2 separate regions of the Homo sapiens genome follow, and region 1 is linked to region 2. The links come from fine-mapping of genetic effects on gene expression. A gene starts in region 2. The other region holds a variant in brackets. All regions are shown on one strand. Distances are between the middles of the regions.

Evidence for each region. PIP is the estimated chance that this variant, and not a neighbour inherited with it, causes the effect. A credible set is the group of variants that fine-mapping cannot tell apart.
Region 1: its variant is the best candidate, but not a certain one, in a credible set for the expression of NFE2L1 in blood mononuclear cells (TOPMed, PIP 0.63).

The regions. Positions count from the first base shown.
Region 1 is chr17:48,129,326-48,133,325 of GRCh38, reverse strand. No RefSeq gene overlaps it. Among named protein-coding and RNA genes, the nearest start is that of SNX11, 24 kb to the right of the region's middle. The variant T/A (reference allele first, on the strand shown) is at 1,895.
Region 2 is chr17:48,046,026-48,050,025 of GRCh38, reverse strand. It overlaps NFE2L1 (NFE2 like bZIP transcription factor 1), which reads right to left and starts at 1,667. Exons shown (of 6, transcript NM_003204.3): 1 at 1,564-1,667. It overlaps NFE2L1-DT (NFE2L1 divergent transcript), which reads left to right and starts at 1,973. Exons shown (of 2, transcript NR_170231.1): 1 at 1,973-2,401; 2 at 3,056-3,145. It also overlaps a transcript of COPZ2 not described here. RefSeq lists a silencer at 1,258-1,537 and enhancers at 1,088-1,689, 1,948-2,187, 1,690-2,291, 2,258-2,447, 2,292-2,895.

The DNA.
Region 1 (4,000 bases), 83 kb before region 2:
AAAAGGAGACTTGGAATTGTCTTTCAGAGCAGAATCTTCTCTGGAATCCACGTCTATTGTTTATTTTTTGTCTTTTTTTTTTTTTCTGAGACAGAGTCTTGCTCTGTTGCCCAGGCTGGAGTGCAGTGGCATAATCTTGGCTCACTGCAACCTCCACCTCCTGAGTTCAAACAATTCTGCTTAAGACTCCCGAGTAACTGGGATTACAGGCGCCCACCACTACACCTGGCTGATTTTTGGTTTTTTGTTTGTTTGTTTGTTTTTGAGATGGAGTCTCGACTCTGTTTCCCAGGCTGGAGTGCAGTGGCGCAATCTTGGCTCACTGCAACCTCCCCGTCCCCGGTTCAAGTTATTCTCCTGCCTCAGCCGCCCGAGTAGCTGGGATTACAGGCGTGCATCACCACACCCAGCTAATTTTTGTATTTTTAGTAGAGACGGGGTTTCACCATGTTGGTCAGGCTGGTCTTGAACTCCTGACCTCAAGTGATCCACCCACCACGGCCTCCCAAAGTGCTGGGATTACAGGGTGGCTGAGCCACTGCACCCAGCCAATTTTTGTATTTTTATAGAGACGGGGTTTCACCATGTTGGCCCGGCTACTCTCAAACTCCTTAGCTCAAGTGATCCACCCGCCTCAGCCTCCGAAAGTGCTGGGATTACAGACATGAGCCACCACTCCCACCCAGCTACTTGGTTTTTTTCCTATGTGCTGAATCTCCAAAATGAGACAGAACCAGAAGCAAGGCCTTGGAGTCAGCACATTGAAGAGTTCCTCTTCAGGCCTCGGGTTAGTTAACAACCCATGTGTCCTCCACTACAACACCTCCCAGGTAGGGGCTGAGGAAATGCTCTGAGGAGGGCTCAAGTATGGATACAGGGCTCCCTGTTTCCCTTTCCTGTTGTCTGTACCTAGCACTCAGGTTACCTGCATATTAAGAGGCAGCAAAACATAGTGATTAACAGCATAACATCTGCAACCAGACAGCCTGGGAATAAATCTCAGTTCCCTGTCTACTGTGCTCTCTGGAGCAAGTTATTTGACCATTTATGCCTCAGTTTCCTCACCTTAGAAGGGATATACTCTATTCACTGTATCATTAGGTGATTAGGAAGATTAAATGATTTAACATGTGTAATGGTACTTGGAACAATGCCTGGCACATAATAACTGTTCAATAAGGGTAGCTGCTATTATTGCCTGATTTCTCTACAGGAGAAATTTTGAAAGACAGGCAACTGGCCGGGTGCAGTGACTCACGCCTGTAATCCCAGCACTTTGGGAGGCCGAGACGGGCAGATCACGAGGTCAGGAGTTTGAGACCAGCCTGGCCAACATGGTGAAACCTCATCTCTACTAAAAATACAAAAATTAGCCGGGCATGGTGGCATGCACCTGTAATCCCAGCTACTCGGGAGGCTGAGACAGGAGAATCGCTTGAACCCGGGAGGCGGAGGTTGCGGTGAGCCGAGTTCGCGCCACTGCATTCCAGTCTGGGCGACAGAGTGAGACTCCGTCTCAAAAAAAAAAAAAAAGAAAGAAAAAAGAAATCCCTGTTCAGAGAAGCCCTGGCTTGGTGGTAGCCTGCCTCTCCTCTGTAATGAACATGTTGCAGCACTGGAGTAAGACGCCCATCTCACATCACAAAAGAGAAACCAGGGGGCAAACAGGGATGTTAGTGGGCTCTAACTTACTCAAAAAAACATAGATCTTATACCAACTATTCATTTCCAGATTATCTGATCCAAGAGTAAAAAGAAGAAAACAGTTTTGTGTATGATGGATAACTGCATGGAATGAAAAGGGGAAATTTTAGGTTTAGGAGGAAAAAAAAACCCAAGTGAGATAAAGGCAATATAGTAGTGTCCTTAACGTCCCCCTACCCTTCACACAGAG[T/A]GCTAAAGGAGAAGGAACCACTAGGTGGCAGCATATGAGCAGGTGAACCAAAGAGAACCAACTGCCTCCAGTTTTAGGAGCCTTTGCACCAATCCCATCCCACAGGAAAGGACAATGGGCAATATTCTAAAGTGTTTAACAGAGGGAGCAAACACAAACCCTTCTATACTCCTCCTCTGCCACCCACCTCTCCCCCACTCCTCCATCCCCCGCCCATCCTTCCCTGGAGACCCAGGGACCCAAATCTGAAAAGCTGGGTGGCTAAGAGGCCAGAATATCATCGTGCCACCACTCTGTGGCTGAAAGACATCAGAAAAGGGGATACCAGAAGAGAAAGGGCCGGGATCTGGGACAGGATGAGGCTGAAAAAGGAAAAGGTCAGCTGGGTGTGGTGGCTCACGCCTGTAATCCCAGCACTTTGGGAGGCCAAGGTGGGTGGATCACGAGGTCAAGAAATCAAGACCATCCTGGCCAACATGATGAAACCCTGTCTCTACTAAAAATACAAAAATTGGCCAGGTGTGGTGGCGCATGCTTGTAATTCCAGCTACTAAGGAGGCTGAGGCACGAGAATCGCTTGAACCTGGGAGGCGGAGGTTGCAGTGAGCCAAGATCACACCACTGCACACCAGCCTGGCGACAGAGCAGGAAAAAAAGAAAAAAAAGAAAAGAAAAAGGTAACTTCTTCACTCCCTACAGAGTTCAATGCTCTCTAAATCATATGGCCATTGGCTTCCAGCATTTAAAATAAAATGTCCCTTCTATACCTGTTTTCCAAGAGGAAACAACCACTTGCCAAACTGCAAAGGTCTTTGGGTACCGCCACACACCCCACCGTAGGGACCACACTCAGATCTCTGGCCCTTCTAGCTGTGAAACTCAGCAGAAAAAGAAATTAGGTTGGTCCTAAAGTATATAAACAAATTACCTCATTGGAAATCTGGTCTGTAGTTCTGGCTGTCTCTGACATTGTTATATGCAAAAAAAAAAAAAAAAAAGCGCGGCAGGGGTTGGGTAGAGCATGTTTGATGTGTTGATGAGACAATCTACAGGCTGATGGACATTCTCTGCTAGGGGATAGTTCTAAAGGAGACTTTTTGGAAGCAGCAGATTCCTACAGCGTTGGAAACTAAACCTCACCCAGCAAAACTGCTCCACACCCAGTTAGCCCCCATCTTAGCCAACGGCCTCAGATGGCAACAGGCTAATTAGATTACCGCTCCTCTGTTTGGCTCTACTAACCAAATCCCCACCTCACTGCCTGCCACTAACTGGATAACTGGGGCATTAGACCGCTTAACTAACCACATTATATGTAGGACGGCTTCTTAATCACTACCAATTGTTCTGGCAAGTGAAATAGGAGAGCAGTGGAGATGAAAGGCTTTTTTCCTTGATTTTATGTAAAAAGAAAATTTAAAAGCTAAAATCCTAAATTTAAGAAGTAAATGTATAATCATTGACACAGAAAGTACTGACTCCCAGTCGATAATCTAACCTGGGGCTGGTACAGTTTGGCCTGAATTGTCCAAGCTGGTATCCAAGAATACTAAATGCTCCGAAAGCAACATTTCAGCTACATTTCATTAAAAATACGTTTTTCTAGTGTGTTTTCCCTGTCATCCACATAGCAAAATAGCATAGATATTGTTTTGCAATTACCTCAATATTAAATTTTTCCATATGATGGCCTGGTATATCTCTTAGAAATCTGTATTTAATTCAAAGCCAACTATATCTTTCTTGATGGTGAATAAAAAATGGGAAAGAGGTGAGAATTCCTATTAAGTCTCATTCCCTAAACCCGGGTTGATTTTGTTTTCAACTAGAGTAGTGTCAAAGGTGGGGTTGACAAGGTGCCCTCCCTCCTGTTTGATTTTTTTTTTTTTTGAGACCTACTCTCCCCTCTGTCACCCAGGCTGGAGTGCAGTGATGCGATCTCTGCCTCAGCCTCCTGAGTAGCTGGGATTACAGGTGCCCACCACCATGCCCGGCTAATTTTTGTATTTTTAGCAGAGACAGCGTTTCACCATCTTGGCCAGGCTGGTCTTGAACTCCTAACCTCGTGATCCACCTGCCTCAGCCTCCCAAAGTGCTGGGATTACA
Region 2 (4,000 bases):
AGACAATAACCAGGTCATCCAAAATATCTTACACCTTTGTTTTATTTACCAGCCCTCCTCCCCCACTACAGGCGCATTACCCAGCTTCTATTTTCACATGAGAAGCCCATTTCCTGTCTTAAAAGTAAAGCTGGATTTTCACCCCTCGGGAGAAAACCACCCATAACAGTTGTCTTTTCTCAGTTCAAAAAGGCAAGATTATTAAACAGTGAGAGTGTGGAAGGACAAAAGGACAATGTTCAGGCCACCACTTCACCCAGAAGAAGAATGCCTTTTGTTTTCTGAACTTTGAAATCTGATTTCCCTTTCCTATCCTCACAACTTACAAAAGAAAAAAAAGGAAAAGGGCCGACGCCTGTAATCCCAGCACTTCGGGAGGCCGAGGAGGGCGGATCACCCGAGGTCGGGAGTTTGAGACCAGCCTGAACAACATGGAGAAACCCCATCTCAACTAAAAATACAAAAATTAGCCGGGCGTGGTGGCGCATGCCTGTAATCCCAGCTACTCGGGAGGCTGAGACAGGAGAATCGCTTGAACCCAGGAAACGGAGGTTGTGGTGGGCCGATATCGCGCCACTGCACTCCAGCCTGGGCAACAAGAGCAAAACTCCGTCTCAAAAAAAGAAAAAAAAGAAAGAAAAGAAAAGGAAAGAAAAAAAGGAGAGGGATGGTGGGGGCCCTACTACGCAGGACTATTCCGTCCAGAATTTGCATAGGCAGGTTTTATTTTCATTCATATGACCTTCTGAGCCAAAGCAGAAGGATATGGCCACGTTCTCTAGCCAGACTGCCCAGTGCAGAGGAAGTAAATCTGTTTCTGGTCTCCACTTTTGAGCTTCCATTAATGTCACAAACCAAGACATACCGCCTCTCCTCTCCTGCGTTGTGACCCATCTACCAACTTCATTCTACAGGGGGAGAGCGAGCTATACGTACACACACGAACGTGCGCACACACACACACTCACACTCCCTCTCTCTGGTCAGAGTAAACACAATTGCGACCCAGAATTCCTGCTTACGCTACCCTCCCGTTCTCACGCAATTTATTACTAAAACCTCCCAGGAGCCAATTAAGTTCGAGGAACCGGACAAAGTCCCTTAAAAATCAAGTAGGTGCAGGGCCCATAGCCTGAGGCTGGTCCCACCCTGCCCGGATACCCGAGTCCGGCTGAGACCAAGTCGCCATGCCCACTCTCGGCGCCGGAGCTTCTAGCCTCCAGGGGCGGCCAGCGAACAAGTGCTACTTCCCTGGCCTTGACCCACCCTTACAGCAAACCCCACCCCGCCCTCCGTCCCGATGGCCCCACCCCACTCCCAAGTCCAGGCCTCACACCACGCCTTCTCGTGCCCTCAACCCTGCCCAGTCCATCCCACCCCGGAGCCAGCTTTCCTCTCGGCCCCGCGCGGGGCCCCTCCCTGTCAGGCCCAGGGCCGGGCTCTGGCGGGAACCCCGCTCGGCCCCCGCCTCCTGCACCTCAGCACCATCCCGTCGCCCCATAAGCCTCGGCCCCGCGGCGCTGCAACCCTCCCTTCTGGGAAAGGAATGTGCCCGATACCCACTGCTTAGCTCGGCGTCCGCCGCTGCCTCCACAGCAGGCCCTAAGCCCGAGTCCCGGCCTCGCCGCCGCCACCGCCGGCCGGCCTAGAGCTCGGAGCCTCCGCTTACCTCCCCGCCCCCTCCTGCTACCGCACTCGGAAACCCGCCCGCCGCAAACACCCTAGGAACAGTTTCTCCAATCAACGAGCCGAGGCCGGGGCCGTCGACGGATGTCCCTCTGATTGGCAGCAGAGAGGGCCCAATGGCTGAGTGTACCTCCTCATCCCCGGACCTGATTTCCCAAGACTGACATAATTCCCGGCCCAATGAGTACCTAGGCCCGCCCCGCGGTATGGACCCACCAATGAGGAGGGCGAAGGCCCTAGTGTCTGGCATTCTGGGCCCCTCGGCCGCGCCTTCGCGGCGGGCGATGTTAGTGGGCTTGGGCGTTGGGTGAAGTATCCAGGTTGGGCGCTTCCAGCGCTTTCTGTGGCGGGGGAATGAAGGCCTAGGTCAGGGAATAGGAAGGTGTATCGCCGCCAGAGTGCGGAACACCCTCGCCTTGAGGGTTCCCACAGTGACTTGCAAAAGTCTAGTGAGACCCGAGAATGCTGAGGCGGGACACGAAGCATGTGGTTCTTGTGGTTGCGACGCTCGTGCCGCCATCTTGGGTGCTGGCGGCGGAAACCGGTACCCCAACTTCCCCTCGGTGCGAACCTGGAGAAGCCACCCCAGCTGTGAGGGACGGTTGCGCCTCATGGCCCAGGCAAGGGTACCTTCGCTGGAGCAGTACCGCGGACGGATATCATGAGGGTGGTGGGACGTTGGCGGAACGTTGGCGGAACGTTGGCGGTGTGAGAGGTGTGGGGTAATGGCGATTTTTGTCATGGTAGAAACAGCCCAAAGGACCCCCCTCGTTTGGCCTCCCACGCAGCTTAGTCTTGCTTTTTTAGGGATGTTTCTCATTTTTTAATTTCTCCAGTCCCATCTGGTTATATTGCCAAAACATGTTTGTGACTCTCAAACGTTAGTTTACTCCCAGCATCACTTGGGGAGCTTGCTAAGCTACGAATTCCGAGGTCCCACTGGAGAGTCTGATTTAATGACCCTGGAGTGGCGGCCGGATAACCTGCCTGCTGGGGTGATTTTAACGCAGCTGATGCGAAGACCCCATTTAGGGAATCATTGGGTTGGCGTTTGCAATGCGTTCCTCCCAGCTATAGGACAAAGAGGTGTCAACTCAACTGTGTCTTCTTAGAAGAGCCCATTATTTATAGGTGAGTCATTAGTCCCTGTACAACTAAGGACAAGGCCAACTGATAACTCAGTAAATAATCGAGTCCATTTTGTGCTTGCGAGTTAGGGGCTTAATTTGGGGTGGTTTGCAGATTAAGTACTTTCACTGCATATAATAAACGTACACCAGCAAACCACTCATGGAATTCTTAAAAAAACTTCTGAGCTAGTTTACCAGTTTCAAAGACTAATTCAGAGAGCATGTTTTACCTATTCTAGGCTGGACTGGAACTCCTGGACTCAAGCGATCTTTCCATTTATCAGGGACTACTGACGCGTGTCTCCCAATAAATACCTGAGTATAAACAACATGAGGACTAGAATTTTGTGCGTTAACTGTTATAACTTAGTAGACACTCAAATACTGAGTACTTGAAGGGGGACTCAAGCAGGCAGGCCTCTGATTTTCCTGTTAAAAGCAGAAATTAACCACACCTTGGAGGATGTACAGTTTTGAAGGATATGGCATGTTAACAATAAAATAGGAGACCATTCAGTCCCCGAAGTAGTGAGACAATGAAGATAAAGACTGGTATTGTATAAGAAAGGAGGAATATTTAGGTGTGGCCATCAACTCTAAAAATAAATAAGGTTGAGAAGGAAGTATTTTAAACATAGAACTGGGCCCGGCGCAGTGGCTCACAGTAGCACCTTGGGAGGCCGAGGCGGGAGGATTGCTTGACCAGCCTGGGCAGCATAGTGAGACCCCCGTCGCTACAAAAAAACAAGCTGGGCTTGGTGCCACACATCTATAGTCCCAACTACTCAGGAGGCTGAGGTGGGAGGATTTCTTGAGCTGGGAGATTGAGGCTGCAGTGAGCTATGATGGTGCCAGTCTGGGCAACAGTGAGATGCTTCCTCAACAAAACAAAACATAAAATTGAGAGATATAAAGGCTCAACTACAGTGTTTAACTACAAGACAATTTTGAGAAGGTGAAAAGAGCATACTAAAGTTGGTCTTTTTTTGACAGAAAAATACAGAACAATTTTCAGTCCTAACAGTTCAAACTAAAACTGGACAATCGTTTATCTGTGGAGTTTCCTGCTTAGCCATTTCACAAAGGTGGGCAGAAAAAGGGAAAGAGTTGCAAGGGCCGAAGAGAGTAAAGGTGTAGAGACAAACTCAGTCGCAACAGCAGGCCTAGGCCTGGCAGGGTGTGGG